Linked DNA regions of Homo sapiens: region 1 is linked to region 2. Evidence: fine-mapped expression QTL. Tissue or cell type: testis. Region 2 holds a variant in brackets; the other region holds the start of a gene. All regions are shown on one strand. Distances are from middle to middle.

Region 1 (8,184 bases), 30 kb after region 2:
AGCTTCATGAATGGGGATCCAGCAGGCGGGAGCTATCACCCAGGCAAAAGAAACACAACAGAACAAGTCTTACCGTTCGTTTTCAGCGCCACAAGCTTCCGGACTTCTCGACACCAGTTGAGTTTCTTCTGGCTTTCCAGGGTGGCCTGGATGTTTCTGTCGATGAGGGCTTTGTGGATGATCTCCCGAAACTGAGGACAAAACTGGCAAGTTCTGAACATTTCCAGTGTGTATCGGTGCATGGTTTTAAAATGATGAATGATCCCATTAGTAGGTTTAAAAATGTCTTCTGGAGTTCTCTCCCGTATCTTCACAGCTTTCCGCATATTGCTCAAATACAAAGCCTGAGGAAGGACTTGTTCAGCCATTGTGCTCTCCAACACCTGAAAAGGAAAGGAAAAAAAAAAAGCCATTCTATTAGCCTGACTTTAATACGACTCCTCTATAGCTGCCTGCAGGAAACCCCAGTGTTTGATCTTGTCATTACCCTGATCTGTAGGCAAAAGATCTTAGCACCTCTACTCCCGGGATACTAGCTGGCCCCAGAGATTAACTCACACTGGACTGTTTTAAGTTACATCACTTTAAAAGATTAGCCTAAACAAGAGAAGGAAGGCAGAGAGTGGGTACTGAGGAGGAGGGGAATAACCCGTGTTTTCAGTAATGTTTGTCAGGGAGCCAACCCTGTCTGTCAGCAACAGGTACTGCTCCTCAAAACCAACTTAAGCTCCCGTTTCATTCTGAGGCCACCCTGAACAGCACTGGATTTGGGGAGTACTGGATGCCAGTTAAGGGCTCAAAGTAGCCCTGACAAGTCTGTAGCTCCTCCCCTCAGACCACCACCAAGCACTCCTGCTCTTGGGCAAACTCTTGAGTTATCACTCCCTCCCTATGCTGGAAGGACAGTAAAATACTTTATGAAAAATCTTGCAATTTTATGCTGTCACTTAGGCTGCTGGTTGGTGTTTCCTCTTTAGCCCCAAAGAGAAGTATTTATAAAGTGTTTAATCATGAAGTTTATTCTGATGTTTATAAAGAGTTAAAACCGAATGTTTTCTAATCAATAAAAAAGTCCATTTCCAGCAAGATGCTTTGCAATTTTAAGAGCAGTCAGCATTCCTTCAGAACCTCCGCACCGGACTTCATATCAGAATAAGAAACAGACTAACAATAGGCTAGGCATGGTGGCTCATGCCTTTAATCCTGGCACTTTGGGAGGTCGAGGGAGGAGGATCACTTAAGCTCAGGAGTTTGAGACTAGCCTGGGCAACACGGTGAGACCTAGGTCTCTACGAAAACAAAAAATGAAAAACCGCAAAATAATAATAGAACAATAAATTCTATACTTCTAAGAACAGATATTGGAGCTCAATCATTTTAACTCAACTGCCAATGAAATTTTATCATCACCCTCCAGGTACCAACACAGAGGCAAGTCTGCCTGGCTTTTCACCCTGAAATCTTTAAGCATAATCAACTAGTAGAAGGAATGAAAATCTAGAAGTAGACAAGGAAAGAAGTTTCCACCAGGAGGCCACTCTGGCAAATGAAGGAGGAAAGGTGGCAAAGACCAGCATCTACAACCCATGCCAACAGCGCAGGATGATGCAAATTAACATGATGTAGGATCTCTCCAGTGTGGAACACTGTAAAAAGCCAGCTGTGATTTACTAGCCCTTAGTAGGGTGTCTGGCCACACTTCCTAATTTCCAAGAAGATGAAGAAGTTTTCAGAGCACAAAGACATTCCCTAGGAAATTTCACAGTGATTGTTAATTCCATTCCTGCAACATCTTATTTGCCAGGGCAACTTTCCAGTTAATAAAAATGTTAAACCTATGGAAGAGGGAGGAGAAGAAACCTAGATTTTAGGGTAGCTACTTCTGTGTGGGTCTAGACTCTCAACACCATTGATAAGGTGTTGAGATAATTCTTGTGGCCCACTCAAAGGAGAGAGGTTGGACTAGATGACCCATGGTTTCTCCTGAGGAGTTTTCTGGTGATAGTTTTAGATTGGGATTCTTAATCTGATTGCTGGGAAAGGCATAGTGGGAGTCATTCTCTGGATCAGATGGTGCTCTCTTTTGATGTCAGACGTCCTCTACAGGTGGAATTGGGCAAAATCATAGCAGGATAAAAATAACACATATACCTTTCCTTTGTGGCACAGCAAAAGTCTCTTTCACAATATCATCTATCCGTCCGTCCGTCCGTCCGTCCATCCATCCATCCATCCATCCATCCATCCATCCATCCATCTATCCATCCATCCACCCATCCACCCAACAAGCACTACCTGACCACCTACTGAAGGCCAATCACCATGCTTGATGATGGGACTAAAAGTCAAAGATGACCTTATTCCCTTCCCTGAAATTACACTACCACCTTAGTCTGCAGCTAAGGCAATGGAGTTACAGGTACTGCTCAGATCCCACAGCCATTCAGGGGCAAAGTTTTGCCTAGGAGCCAGGTCTTTCAATACCTGCCCCTTGCAATCCCACAACACCAAACCTGTGGCTACAGTGCCTGCCACAATCAGATGGAAAGAGATGGGCAGTAGGAAGATTTTAAACAAATGAGGTGTTATCTCTTTTTGCTTGCCTGACTCTTTTATTTTTCTCTTCTGAATCTAAAGATTTTTCACCAAAGATCTAAAATAGTGAGAGCTGTAAACCATAGGCAAGACATGCAAATGTCAATATCGGATACGCCAGTGTGATCTCATTGGTAGGGTTAGCCTTGCACAGCCTGTAAAACTGCCTCCTTAGAAATCAAAACCCACTGCCCAGATTTCCAGGTCTTGGACCACTCTACGCTTAAGATTAAAGAACAAATGTTTCAGATACGTTATAAGTGGCAAACAATGCAATATTACCCTTAACTTTTTTTTTTTTAACATTTGTTACCTCACTGTCTTATTTAAAGGTAGTTTCTCAACTTTTGTCACTAGGATTCCACAGAACTTCTCCGTTACTCAAACTCTTCTCCCCCTTGTTTTATTTTTCCACTCTGGGCAGACATTTTTGTCTGCATTGTGGAAATTGATGAATTATTTATCAACAAATACCTCATCCAAATTTGGGGATGTGCCTCTCCAAAAAATCAAAAATAGTACAAAGAATTGAAAAAAAAATCAAAGCAGCACCTTAAACAATGAGAATGAAGCATTCATTGGCTGCTCAATAATCTGGTACATTAAGGTTGCGGTCCAGAAGTCCCTTTAATTAACAATGGTTCTGCCAAAATGCTACCCTGAGACACTTGACCAGACTGGCTTTCCAAGGCAAGAAGATCTGAGGCGAGGAGAACCGAAAACAAAGCGGGCTCAAAAAGAGTTAAGCTCCTTCCTTACTTAATGCCACTGCTTTTCTGAGAGGCCAGGTGGCAGGATGTGGGACGACTCCAGCTGACAAAGACAGTCTAACCGTGGGGTAGGGGCTGGAGCAGGGGCCAGCGACCCACGTCTACATGCATACTTCTCTTACACTGCTGCTACTGGAAAAGCTGAACCCCGCGCCAGGACCCCAGCCCCCTGCAAGGACCCGTGAGCGTCTGGGAAGCTGTCTCTGGGACTGAAGCCCCCCACCTCCGCCGGGCTGGCGGCCACTGCGGTACCCTACGCCCCGTCGGGCTGGTCCTGCACAATTTGGGAAAAAGCCGCAGCGCTTCTGCAAGGTCTACGTGGCCATGAGCATGCAACGCTTGGCTCCAAAAAAGACACGAAAGGAGCAAAGCGCCAACGACCACCCGATCGGAGGGCCCGAGGGGCGCCTCTTCACCAGTCAGCTGCAGCTTAAGTTCCGTGCATTATCTGAAAGGAACAGCTGGCTGGAGGTATCCAGGGCTGTCACTCCAACCTCTGCAGCAGTGACCTCAACTCCCAGCACTTCAAAACCCAGACAGAAACGTCCAACAAACTCCCAGTCCAGGAGCGCTGCAAAACCAACGCCAGGTAGACGGTGCCAGCCCGGGGGTCGCTGCCCAACATGCACCCGCAGCCCTTGACTGCGGTGAGCCCGAGGCAGACGGCACGGGGAGGCGCGGCGGTTACCTCTCCGGGAGGCGCGGCGGTTACCTCTCCGGGAGGCGCGGCGGTTACCTCTCCGGGCCCCGCGATCCTTTCGCAAAGTCCCAAGTCCTGGTCAAGGCAGGAGCGCGCCGCAGGCGGGGGTCGGGGCAGGGACCGGGCGGAGGCGACGCTCCATGGACGCCTGGGGTCGGGCTCGCTCGCTGGCAGGGTCGGCTGGGGGTGTGATCTCTCTTGGCGGCCGCTCTCACCGCTCCGCCCCCGCGGGCTCCAAGCTCGCTTGGCCCGCCACGAAGACTGCAGACTGCGCAGTCTGCTTTGCCCCGTTTCAGTTGTATGCGGGTTGTAGGCCCGGGGATTTCCACGGGACTTTCCAAAGTCACGTGACTCTCTGGGTCGGGCTGCGAAGTGCGTCCAGCCGGCCGCCAGAGGGCGCAGGGGGCGAGGGGCGCGCGCGGCCTCCGCCCGACCGGGCCTGCGGGCCCCGCCCCGCCCCCTTTCCCTGCCCCGCCCCGCTGCCCCGCCCCGCCCGGTCCCTGCAGGCGCCCGGAGAAACTCCCTCGCCCCGCCCCGGGGTGTCCCCGCGTGAGTCACCTGGGCATTTCGGAAGCTGGGGTCACGTCACATCCATGTGGAAATCGCGGTGATGGGAACTGGAAATGAAATAGGTTCTTTTTCGCAGTTGTTTTTCTGCAGAAAATCATCAACTGTGGAGAAGAAGAAGGGAAATAAGAAAGAAAGAAAACCCTAAAAACCACCCTGGCGCCCGGGCCCGCAGGCCTCGGGCCGGCTCTGAAAAGTTTGGGCTGTGCACGTGATGAGCGCGTAGGCGGGAGCCCCAGACAGGACCCGGGCGGGCATTTCGAGAAAAAGCAGCGGTGACAGCCTTTGGTCCCCATCTCCATTGTTCCTGCCAGCTCTGGACCCCAGGCTGCATGAGACGTAGGTCCCAGGGGACACCCGACCCCGTGGCCCCAGTCTTAGGTAAACTTAGGAATCAGAACAACACTCACCCCTATGCCGCGCTTGCTCCATTTCCCCTTGTCTATTTCTGCTCACCAAGCATCCAGCTGACATTGCATTCAAAGCAGCATTTCAGCTTAGAAATCGCTTCTAGTCCATCACGGTGCTTGCCATGTGTCTCCAAGGCTTTATTAGGTGTGTTTTTAGTTGTCCTGATAATCAGTTCACCCCAGGGTGCTGATGGCTGATAATACTGGCGCTTCCCTCCCTACCCCCATGCGTTGCACAGGGAGGGTGAGTCATGTGGAGATGGATGCAGCCCCCTGGGCAGTGGGGGTGCAGGTGCTGTGCAGGGAGGAGTCTTAGGGCGTTTTTACTGTCTTACTGCCCTCTAAGCACGGGACCCTTTGGATCATTTACTAGATTGGCTAAACTAGAACCGGATGGAAATATTCTGTACTATGGTCCCCTTAATTACATTTAAGAATACTTGTCAGGCCATATATCACAGGTTTTTAATTAGAAAAGTATCCTCCTCTCGCCAGTAAGGACTTGCAGAGATGGGGGTGGGGGCTGGATGGAGGGTGGCACTTTTTTGGCAAAAAGAAGTTTGGAGCAGAGTGTCACTAGTGGCCTCTCTGAAGACTGGTCCTCGTCTTTTAAAACCGATGGCTGGAATTTCTTCCAGTTCCAAACCTCTTGTTATTTGTCCTCTCTTCTTGTTCACAAATGTGCTATCAACATTCAAACAATGGATAGTCAGCTATCCATTGTAAATGGACCTTGCTGGAGTCCAGGGCTAGCAGAAATGACAGGGTCTAAAATGACATTTATCAAGTACTTGCTATATGCTTATATATGCTTTTTATATGAAGGTTAAGAAGCTTGAGGCATTTGCCCAGTTTCCACAACCAAAAGGGGCAGAGTCGCCAGTGGCATTAAGCCTGTGTTACTCCAAAGCCCATAATGACCAGTCTTACTAGACCATTCCTCTCAGGAAAGATCCTGTGAGACAGGTACTCTTTTGGTGTCCTGTCTCCCAGCCTCTCAAAACAGCCAAACACGGACCTTAGACAGAATGCGGCTTCAGAGGTAGAAGGGTCTTGGTTTCACCTTCAGGAAACCTCCTGGGTTTCAGTTGAGCTGGCAGAAGAAGATCATGTATCTGAAAGACCCTGCATGGAATGTTAATCCTCACACCACTCTCCTGCTGGTGCTCCTTTGTAAACAGAGTTGGCCTGTTTCCTCTCATCTCTGGCTCCATGACTTCAATCCTCCTGCAGCTTCCACTGCCCCTATCTGGCTCATGTCTTGCTGTCTGGTGTCATGAACTGGGAGTGCAGTAAAGAGGAGTGACAAGCCTGAGGGGCCACGTTCATACCTGCCACTGCCAACTGTCCTGATGTAACTGCTTTGTCATCTTGCCTGCCAGGATTTGTGACAAGGTAATAGCAGTCAGATGCAGGAGTGGTCTATAGCCCTGGATTATGTTCGAACTCCACTTTCCATGATTCTACTGCTGGGCTTGTGAATTGCCACTCCCACCACCAGGCGGTCTTTACTGTCCTTTCCACCTTCTAAATCAGCGCTGTGTTGGGCTGTACCCTTGCCTTTTCCCCTTCTATTATGTAACACATGGACAAGACCAATGACAATTTTCTTGGTGAATCAGAAGGAAAGAAAAGAAGAGAAGGAGAGAGTATAGATGGAATGCCTTCTTATGAAAAAAAGGAGAAATACAATTTGGGGAGATTTGTTGAATAAGTTGAAACCAAAGAGATATAGAATGCTGAAAAGCCTTGAAGGAGATTTAATTTGAGCTATAGGCCTTGTCAAGATGGACAGAACTCTTTAAAGAAGAGAATATTTATTAACATTTAGTAGACACTTAGGAGAAAAAATATGTCTCCTTATTAGATGAAAAAGGAATTCTGATTATGTGAAATATTTTTGGAGAGTTCCTAAGTTACGTGCCATTTTGACACCAATGCTGGGGTTTATGGGTCATGAACTATGTAAAATGAGCACACATGACCTCTTGGAATTAAACGGTTCCCGTGAGACTGTGCTTGCAGCCTGTATCCCTGTACCATGCAGTAAAAAAGATGTGCTTGCCCAGATGGGGGGAGCAGGAAGAACCTGATGAAAGAGAGCACCACGTGTGACAAGTGAGAGGAGACCCTGCTGAGCTCAAACATATTTCATGAGCCTTTCTTAATCAAGAATCAGCAACAGTTGATTGGTTGTTGATTCTTTTTTTTTTTTTTGAGACGTCGTCTTGCTCTGTCGCCCAGGCTGGAGTGCAGTGGCGCGATCTCAGCTCACTGCAAGCTCCGCCTCCCGGGTTCACGCCATTCTCCTGCCTCAGCCTCCCGAGTAGCTGGGACTACAGGCGCCCGCCACTACGCCCGGCTAATTTTTTGTATTTTTAGTAGAGACGGGGTTTCGCCGTGTTAGCCAGGATGGTCTCGATTCTCCTGACCTCGTGATCCACCCGCCTTGGCCTCCCAAAGTGCTGGGATTACAGGCGTGAGCCACCGCGCCTGGCCCCTGGTTGTTGATTGTTAATTAGCATGCGTCTGCAGTCCCAGCTACTCGGGAGGCTGAGAGGGAAGGGTCCTTTGAGTCCGGGAGTTTGAGTCTATCCTGGGCAACATAGTAAGACCCATGTTTCTAAAAATTAAAAAAATAAAAAAGAAGAAATTATGTATTTTTAATAATCAGTGACACTCTCTTTCTGAGACTGTACAGAATTCCAGGGCATGGCAGTCATGGGCCAAACTAAAACTGGACCTTTTGTGTCTTTTGTACAATTGCCCCCTCCCCTTTTCCCTGCACTGTGCTCTATTGGAAAGGCAGATTCATAGAAAACATATTGGGAAGCAGCCTTAGGTAACTATGGCAGCTTAGTTATTGTAGGGTAGCTTTGAATCATGTTTCAGATTTTCAAATTCTGCCTCAAACATTACTAAAGGGTAACGTTTGCACATTCAAGGCCACTACAAGGGCTAGTTCTGAGAATAAAGAGAAGCTTTCTGTGGATTATAACCGTGAGAACTGGGATAATGATGTCATAAATTTCATCATCCTATGAATGCCAAATTCTACTGAATGTTGCTTCTTATCTAGGGACCTCAGATCCTTTACATGTGTTATCTGGACTGAATGGAGAAACCCAAGACCCACCATGGT
Region 2 (8,184 bases):
CAAGCCTTGAAGTACATCAGATGCTGTAACCCTACTCATAGGTACAATTTTGAATTTGTGCTGGATCCAAGGCCATTGCGTCTGGGGTGAGCTTCAACGTCTTTGAGCCCCTTGAGCTGTATCCTTTCTCTTCCTCCTGGCCTTCACTGAGCTTGCTCTGTCCATGTCACTAGGCAGCTTGCCCTGGTTAACACTGAAATCCCTATCTGGGCCTGGAGCCAGCTCATGAACTGCACTCAGGTTCTCTGGGGTCTTGACAACATGATATCTTATTGCCAGATATGTGTTCCTTTATTCTGTTTATCAGTAGGTCAAGTCAATAAAAATATATTGATTGCCTACTCCATGCCAAGCTACTATGTGGGGGATATTACTGTCTGGACTTTGATCTGCTGTTGAGATATCAATCCAAACAACTAGATCTCAGTCAACCCTGCCGAATGCCTGATTCCAAAATTCACCATTGGCTGGACAGTCTGTTTTGCCCCAGATTGGACCTCTTAGATACTGATACCGTGTCAAGCTTACTATATCCCTTTTGACACTATAACTTGAAAATCTAGCTATCCATCTCAGGTCCCAGTTCTACAGAAAGGTTAGTCCCCAGTAATTCTGGCTTCTTTTCCTGTCCTCATGTCTCCCTTGCCAAGATCCTGCAAACTTTCCAGGTAAGCCTTCTTGGGTTCTGACCTTTATAACATTTATGATTTACAAAAATATCTTTATATATATTTTCCCATTCTAGTTTTGAATCTTAAAATAACTCTTTGAGATAGGAGGGGAGGCTTATTAAATCTCTGTTTCACTAAAGAGGAAACTGTCTTTAAGAAGACTAATGACGTATTTATGTTTAATAAATGGCCTTTTTAGGATGTGAACTCAGACCTTATCTCTCATTTTAATGTTCTTTACCCTGGGGGGTGGGGTGGCTAACCTTCACTTTGAACAGACCTTATAATTCATTTCAGGAAGCAGTCAACTCTTTGGTATGAAGGATTGATGTGTTAGACCTCCTAGGACGACACTTTAACCCCCAAATAATTACTCAAAACACATAAATATTACATCCTATGTAGTTAGAAGGATAAAAGTCAGTAGATGTAAGGCCAAGCATGGTGGCTCATGCCTATAATCCCAGCACTTTGGGAGGCCAAGGCAGACAGATTACTTGAGGTCAGGAGTTTGAGACCACTCTGTACCCAAAATACAAAAAATTAGCTAGCCGTGGTGGCATATGCCTGTAATCCCAGCTACTTGGGAGGCTGAGACAGGAGAATTGCTTGAACCCAGGAGGCAGAGGTTACAGTGAGCTGAGATCATACCACCACACTCCAGCCTGGGCGACAGAGTGGGACTTTGTCTCAAAAAAAAAAAAAAAAAATCAGTAGATGTAAAGGACCTTTGAGCAATGTGAGAATATGTTTCTTAGCTAGGCATAGACCTATCAAAGGGAAAGCTCTGTATAGGATCTCTTTTTTAAAAGAATTTAATTGTTATATTGAAACATAATTGTATGCCTATATGTGATACGTGTGATATTTTGATACATGCGTACGATGTGTAGTGATCCAGTCAGAATAATTAAGATATCTGTGACCTCACATAGTTATCATTTCTTTGTGCTAGGAACATTTCAAATCTCTTCTAGTTTTTTGGAATACACATCCTATAGCCTTTCTGCAGACTGAAAGTCGGCTTGGCTACTTCAGGGTAGAGAAGTCACCCACCCCAATATACATAGTACATGGCAGTGTTAGTTGCCACCACCTTCAAGAGCCCTTCCCAGCTTCCCTTTCTCTGTTGAGGCTGAAAGCCTGGAAACAACATTGCCTGACCTGTGTTTCTAGCAGAGTTCTTGTTTAGGGCTCACCTCCAAGAAAAAATCACCAGAGATCTGGAAAGCAAAGGAGAAGGAGAAACCATTATCTTCTCATGACAGCTGTAGGTAGTGGATGTAGGCAGGAAGAAAATGTCATCAAATGTAATTCCTGAATTTTCATACTTTTGAAAATCATCAGCAATTTATCCTGAGCTTCTCTTGCCCAGCAAGAGAAGTTATCTTAGCATCACATTTCCTATAAAAAATCCTTTCCTGCTTAGAATTTCTAACATGGTATTGTTTTCCACCAGTCCAGTTTCAACTGATGATCATATTTTCCCCATGATTTTACCTTTTTTACATTTACTTTATTATTATTTTTTTTTTGAGACAGAGTCTGCCTGTGTCACCGAGGGTGGAGTGCAGTGGCACAATCTCAGTTCACTGCAGCCTCCGCCTCTTCGGTTCAAGAGATTCTGGTGCCTCAGCCTCCTGAGTAGCTGGAATTACAGGCCTGCACCACCACACCTGGCTAAGTTTTGTATTTTTAGTAGAGACTGGGTTTTACCATGTTCGTCAGGCTGGTCTCGAACTCCTAATTTCACGTGATCCTCCCACCTTGGCCTCCCAAAGTGCTAATATTACAGGCGTGAACCCCCTGCCCAGCTACATTTACTTTTGTTTCTCTGAATGGGAGCTCTTCAAGGGATGGATGTGTCCTATTTACTTTTGCATCTCCAATGCTTGCAATATATGAGGCACTCAATAAATGTTGTTAAAAGGGAACATAAAAAATAAATTTGGGTGGGAGGAGGGTGAGATATTTTGGAGCAAACGAAGAACCGAATATCCTGAGCAAGGGAAAAAAGGAAATCTTCAAAATGTCACTCTTTAATTCTAGAGTTGTTTTGTATGGGTCAACTAGCTATTAGCGTTTAAGGCACTACCTTGATGAAGAAATCCTATGCAAAAACCTCCTCTTTATAACAAAGCTGGACTTCTAAAAAAATCACAAAAATATTTGTACATCATGCAAATTCAGATTGACATGCTTCATTAATATTTGATTCAATGGTGACATGCCTTCTAATTGAGGTATATTAGTGGTGATCATCACAAGAGAAACTACTCATATTTAAACATTTTTTCAGCCCATGGTTGGAGGTATAGAGGGCAGACACTGGGCAAAACACAAATTCTGATCCCTAAAAAAATCTTACATCTCAAACATCATCTCAACATTTACTTTTAGAGAAAATCCATACTGTGTCAGATGTAGGGTTAAGCATTTGAGACACAGAAAAATCAAGTTCCTCTACTTTGAGAAATTCACATGTATGATAAACATTAATCAATAATTATAAAATCGTGACAGAAAGTACACAGGTTTCAAGGAAGTACCTAGGAAAAGCAGCTAAATTGTATTGGAGAGTGGGAGACCACGTGCCTCTTGAATTAAAGGACTCTAGAGTTGAGTCATGAAGGATGCATAGGGCTTGGCTAGGGAATAAAGGTGGTGCAGGTGGTGGGAATGGCAGAAGCAGGCTCTGGATTGAGGACTCAGGGCATTCCTGGATTCTCTGTGGGTATGAATGGAGGCAGAGAGCCATGGGCCACATATCACCAAAGGGCCTTGTGAGCCACATTAAGGAACCTGGACTTTGGAAATCTATTGAGGGCCATTAAAAACAAGTCCTATGGTCAGTGGAATTCTGCTCAGAGTTTAGAGACCTGGACTTCATTCAAGTCTTTGTCCCTGAAATCCTTCAGATCTAGGGTGTTCCATGGACCCCAGGAGGAGAACGTAATTACATGGATATTTAGAAAGATCCCACTGGCTGCACTTTGGCAAGTGGTTTGGAGGGCTTATGACTGAAAGTAAGAGTACTAGTTATGGAGCTTTTGGGGTGGACCAGGTGAGGAGTAATCTGATGCATGGGCAATGGTGTACTAGACAGATTTAAGAGGTTCCAAATGAACACTCTCTAACCTTCTTCTCTTTTTTTGGTTAATTAAAATTTTTTCATTAAAATTTTTTTCTGCACATTTCATTTCATTTTCATTTATATTAAATAATGAATAATCTTCTAACTTTTACTGATGGCTTGGAATATATGCATGCTATATTATTATAACATCATTAACAAATTTTCTGACAATCAGGTATTATCTTTCATTTACTTTTAGATTGGAAGAGACATTCGTGTGTTTTGTTCAGACATGAAATATCAAGCTGTTCTTTTCTTAAAAATACAAAATCCTACATAGATAACAAAAGAAGCATAAAGTTGGTTTAAGCAATATGTCTCTAAACTCAGTGGTTAAATAATTACAGTACATTTTTCACAGACCCACAAATGATTTTGCTGCCTCTGAGGACGTGTGTAGCTTGTGCTGGGCCAACGGGATTGAGCCTCTTGTGGAGCCAGAGGCCTCTGTGTCAACAATTTCCCCTCAACTCTTTGAAACTACTCCTGTTTAGTTTTTTTTTTTTCACTGCCAAAATAAATAAATAAACAAATAAATAAATAAAATGGGCCAGGCCTGGTGGCTCACGCCTGTAATCCCAGCACTTTGGGAGGCCGAGGTGGGCGGATCACCTGAGGTCGGGAGTTCGAGACCAGCCTGACCAACATGGAGAAACCCCGTCTCTACTGAAAATACAAAAATTAGCCGGGCGTGGTGGCACATGCCTGTAATCCCAGCTACTCAGGAGGCTGAGGCA[G/A]GAGAATTGCTTGAACCCAGGAGGCGGAGGTTGCAGTGAGCCGAGATCGCGCCACTGCATTCCAGCCTGGGTAACAAGAGTGAAACTCCGCCTCAAAAAAAAAAAAGACTGCTCCTTTTTAATACCTGTGATAACTGTTCTTACTTTAAAGTATCTACTTTAAGAGCCACAAACTTGTTGATGTCTTTAAACCCTCAAGAATGGATAAAACTACCACCAGACTTTTCAGTTTTCTAAACTTAAATTTAAGTCATTTAAAAAGTTATGTTTTCTAAAGATGATCATGAAAAGTGTTGAGTACTAACTACTTCCTATATTCTGACTCATTATTCTACTGGAAAATCTATAAAACTGGAATTCACAGAGAAGCATATTCGGTAAACTAGTTCAGTATTCAACCAATACGTTAATTAATTTCACCTTCATGAAACTGTTGGTGTGAAGGGGCATGGAACAGCCAGGACCTGGAGGATTTCACCAGCAAGTCTTTGAATGAAGTCCAGGTCCCCAAAACCAGAGCAGAAGTTTACTGAATCACAGGACTAGGAAGATGATAGAGCACTCATAAGTGCTGTTTTAAAGGCAGGGGATGAGTGGATAGGACAGTGCAAGAGAGATTTATTCTACTTCTTTCCTTAGTCATTTCATATTAGGAATCCAAGCTTTTTTTTTTTTTTTTTTTTTTTTTTTGAGACAGGGTCTCATTCTTGTTGCCCAGGCTGGAGTGCAGGGGCGTGATCATGACTCACTGCAACCTCTGCCTCCTGGGTTCAAGCTTTTTGCCTGCCTCAGCCTCCCTAGTAGCTGGGATTATAGGCGTCTGCCACCATGCCCAGCTTATTTTTGTATTTTTAGTAGAGTTGGGGTTTCACCATGTTGGCCAGGCTGGTCTCGAACTCCTGATCGCAAATGATCCGCCCGCCTTGGCCTTGGTGCTGGGATTACAGGAATGAGCCACCGCGCCCAGCCATCAAATTTCTTAATATTAGAAAATTCCTGCTTGTTTGCTGTGCTTCTTCAGGCTGTAAATCATATCTCCTCTTGTTTTGATTCCTGTGTAGTCTGACAGCAGCTGGATGTCCTTCTTACTATAATAAAGTATTCCAATAATAATTGAAACTCTACATGTCAAATCTTACTCCAACAAACTCTAAGGATTTCCCAGATTCCTGAGTTCTAACTCAAGGTTTTAGATAGTAACTGGAGGTAATACCTTGGAAATAGATTTTCCTCTGGGAGTTAAGTAATAAACCAGTTCAGATATGTATGAAGTCGCCAGAAGAGACAGACTATGGCTTAAAATTGAAAGTGTTGACCAGGATTAGAGGAAAGTAGGCCAATCAGAAGGTGGGGGTGGTGACACAAAGAACGGGCAGGGTTTCAAAGGCAGAGCCATTGGTGGGACTCATCAAGCCATGTATGCGGAGACAGTATCCTGAAGGACTATTGCTGAGTAAGGAGAGACGTAAGGAGAGAAGACTCACTCCATTGGGACATGGAGACGGATATATCCAAATATGAAGAAGGATGCTTCAATCACACAGACAGTCACTAGCTCCCCTCAATCTGACTCCAGGCTTATCAAGCACCCTGATAATAAGCATTGCTATGGAGTGTGCCTCTAAGGAGGGGTGTCACTGACTGGAGAGTACAGTGTTTGTACCTTTTTGGTAATTAGCGGATGTTATGAAAATAATCAATACCGGTAGCAGCATATCTCTGATCAATATCTGATCTGATCTGATATTGTCTCTGGGACACTGAGTTTTTATGGCACTTCTATACTAAAATGGATTCACAATGGTAATAAATACCACCTAGTGCATGTTCACATGACAAGCTGGTCACCTGCAGAAGAAGGTGCCTGCCCTCTTGTAATGCCCCAGGTATACATTGTAATTTTATTCGCTTTCCCTCAATTGCTCTTTGAAAGCAGCACTCTTTTGGCTACTAGCAATTCCAAACTCTGGCTGCATATTAGATTCACTGGTACTTAAAAAAATAAAATACCCGAGACAGCCATCACAAGCCAATTACAGCTAGGAATCTCTGTGCATTGGCATCACTTAAAAGACCTCTGGGTGATTCTACTATGTCCCCAGGGTTGAGAACCCTTAGCTGGGTTATCCATAAAAAGAGCATTATCTGATAGTGTGAGGGGAAAAGTTCCCTGATATATTTTTGAAAGCATTTAATGAGCATTTTACAGATGAGCAAACTGCGACTCAGAGATATGAGGCAACTTGCTGAAGGCTGAATAACTCATGGGTAATGGAGCTGGCATTTGAACCTAAATATTTCTTTTACAAAATGTCATGTTCTTTCCATGATGTCTGGGAGAATGCACGGCAGAAGGCACAAGCTCTACCATGTTCTGATGAAGGGAGAGAAGAGAGGATGGCAAAAAGGGCATAGGGAGTATACAATGGAGTTTTCCGGAGGCTCCATGACATGTCATGACGTCAGCATTCTGGAAGCTAATGGTGTGTTTACTTGTGAATTCTGGCTGTGACATTTTTCTCAGTTTTAATTTCTAAAATGGTAAATATAAACAAATAAAAACACATATAAACAAAAGCTCTCTGGGGTCTTGAATAATTGTTAAGGCTGTAAAGGAGTCCTAAGACCAGAAAGGTGTCCTTTTCTAGAGAGACTAGGAAGCCGTAATATGTATATGTATACATGTAGTGACAGAAGGCAAGAATGAATACTCAACTCGGTTTATTCTAAAAAGCATTGCATGTCATGTTGGAAATTGGACTCCAAATCCTTTTTTTGTTTGTTTTTTTGAGGCGGAGTCTCTGTCACCCAGGCTTGAGTGCAGTGGCGCCATCTTGGCTCACTGCAGCCTCTGCCTCTCAGGTTGAAGTGATTCTCCTGCCTCAGCCTCCTGAGTAGCTGGAATTACAGGCGCTCACCACCACCAAACCTGGCTAATTTTTGTATTTTTAGTAGAGACAGGGTTTTGTCATGGTGGCCAGGTTCGTTTTTGACTCTTGGCCTTAAGTGATCTGCGCACCTCAGCCTCCTGTGAACCACCACGCCCAGCCCCAAATCCTTTTGCTTTCATACCATCTTTAAAAACATTTTTTGAGCATAAATTTACAAAATATGAGTTATTTTAAATCAACTATAATGCACTATTATTTAAAACATTAAAAATCACAAAATAGAGGAATTTTAAAATGAGATACAGATGAAGTAGGTAATATTTTTAAAAAATCATTTTTATTAATAGTAAAAGTATATTTTGACCTCAATAAGAAGTGGTAAAAAATTAGTTAATATGCTTTATTGAAAAAAAAAACATGTCTATCACTTTGTGAGAAAGCCACTCCAAAATGATTCTAAGTTCATTTTATTGTAATCTTTGATGATAATGACTATCAGGGCTGAAAAAGACACCTCAAGAAAATGGAAAAAAAAAATAGAAGATATGTAGAAAAAAATCACTGGGTGTGCCTGCTAATTCATGGTGAATCACATTTCATTGTCAGTTATGAAGTATGAAGTTTTTGTTGAAACTCAGCTAGTAAATTCCTATCTTCTTTGATGTCAATTAGTTGGGAAGTTATAAAGATAAGTTGAAATTCTCAACAAATGGGTTCAAAATCTCTTGAAACCCTTCATTTGGGTAATT

Evidence for each region. PIP is the estimated chance that this variant, and not a neighbour inherited with it, causes the effect.
Region 1: it holds the start of WAKMAR2, and the variant in region 2 is fine-mapped to the expression of WAKMAR2 in testis (GTEx, PIP above 0.99).

The regions. Positions count from the first base shown.
Region 1 is chr6:137,863,412-137,871,595 of GRCh38, reverse strand. It overlaps WAKMAR2 (wound and keratinocyte migration associated lncRNA 2), which reads left to right and starts at 3,363. Exons shown (of 4, transcript NR_049793.1): 1 at 3,363-3,954; 2 at 4,712-5,013; 3 at 6,276-6,437. It overlaps TNFAIP3 (TNF alpha induced protein 3), which reads right to left and starts at 4,337. Exons shown (of 9, transcript NM_001270508.2): 1 at 4,054-4,337; 2 at 74-383. The coding sequence starts at 368. RefSeq lists enhancers at 473-592, 4,661-4,800 and silencers at 3,791-3,890, 4,031-4,200, 4,441-4,580.
Region 2 is chr6:137,893,782-137,901,965 of GRCh38, reverse strand. No RefSeq gene overlaps it. Among named protein-coding and RNA genes, the nearest start is that of WAKMAR2, 30 kb to the right of the region's middle. The variant G/A (reference allele first, on the strand shown) is at 4,545.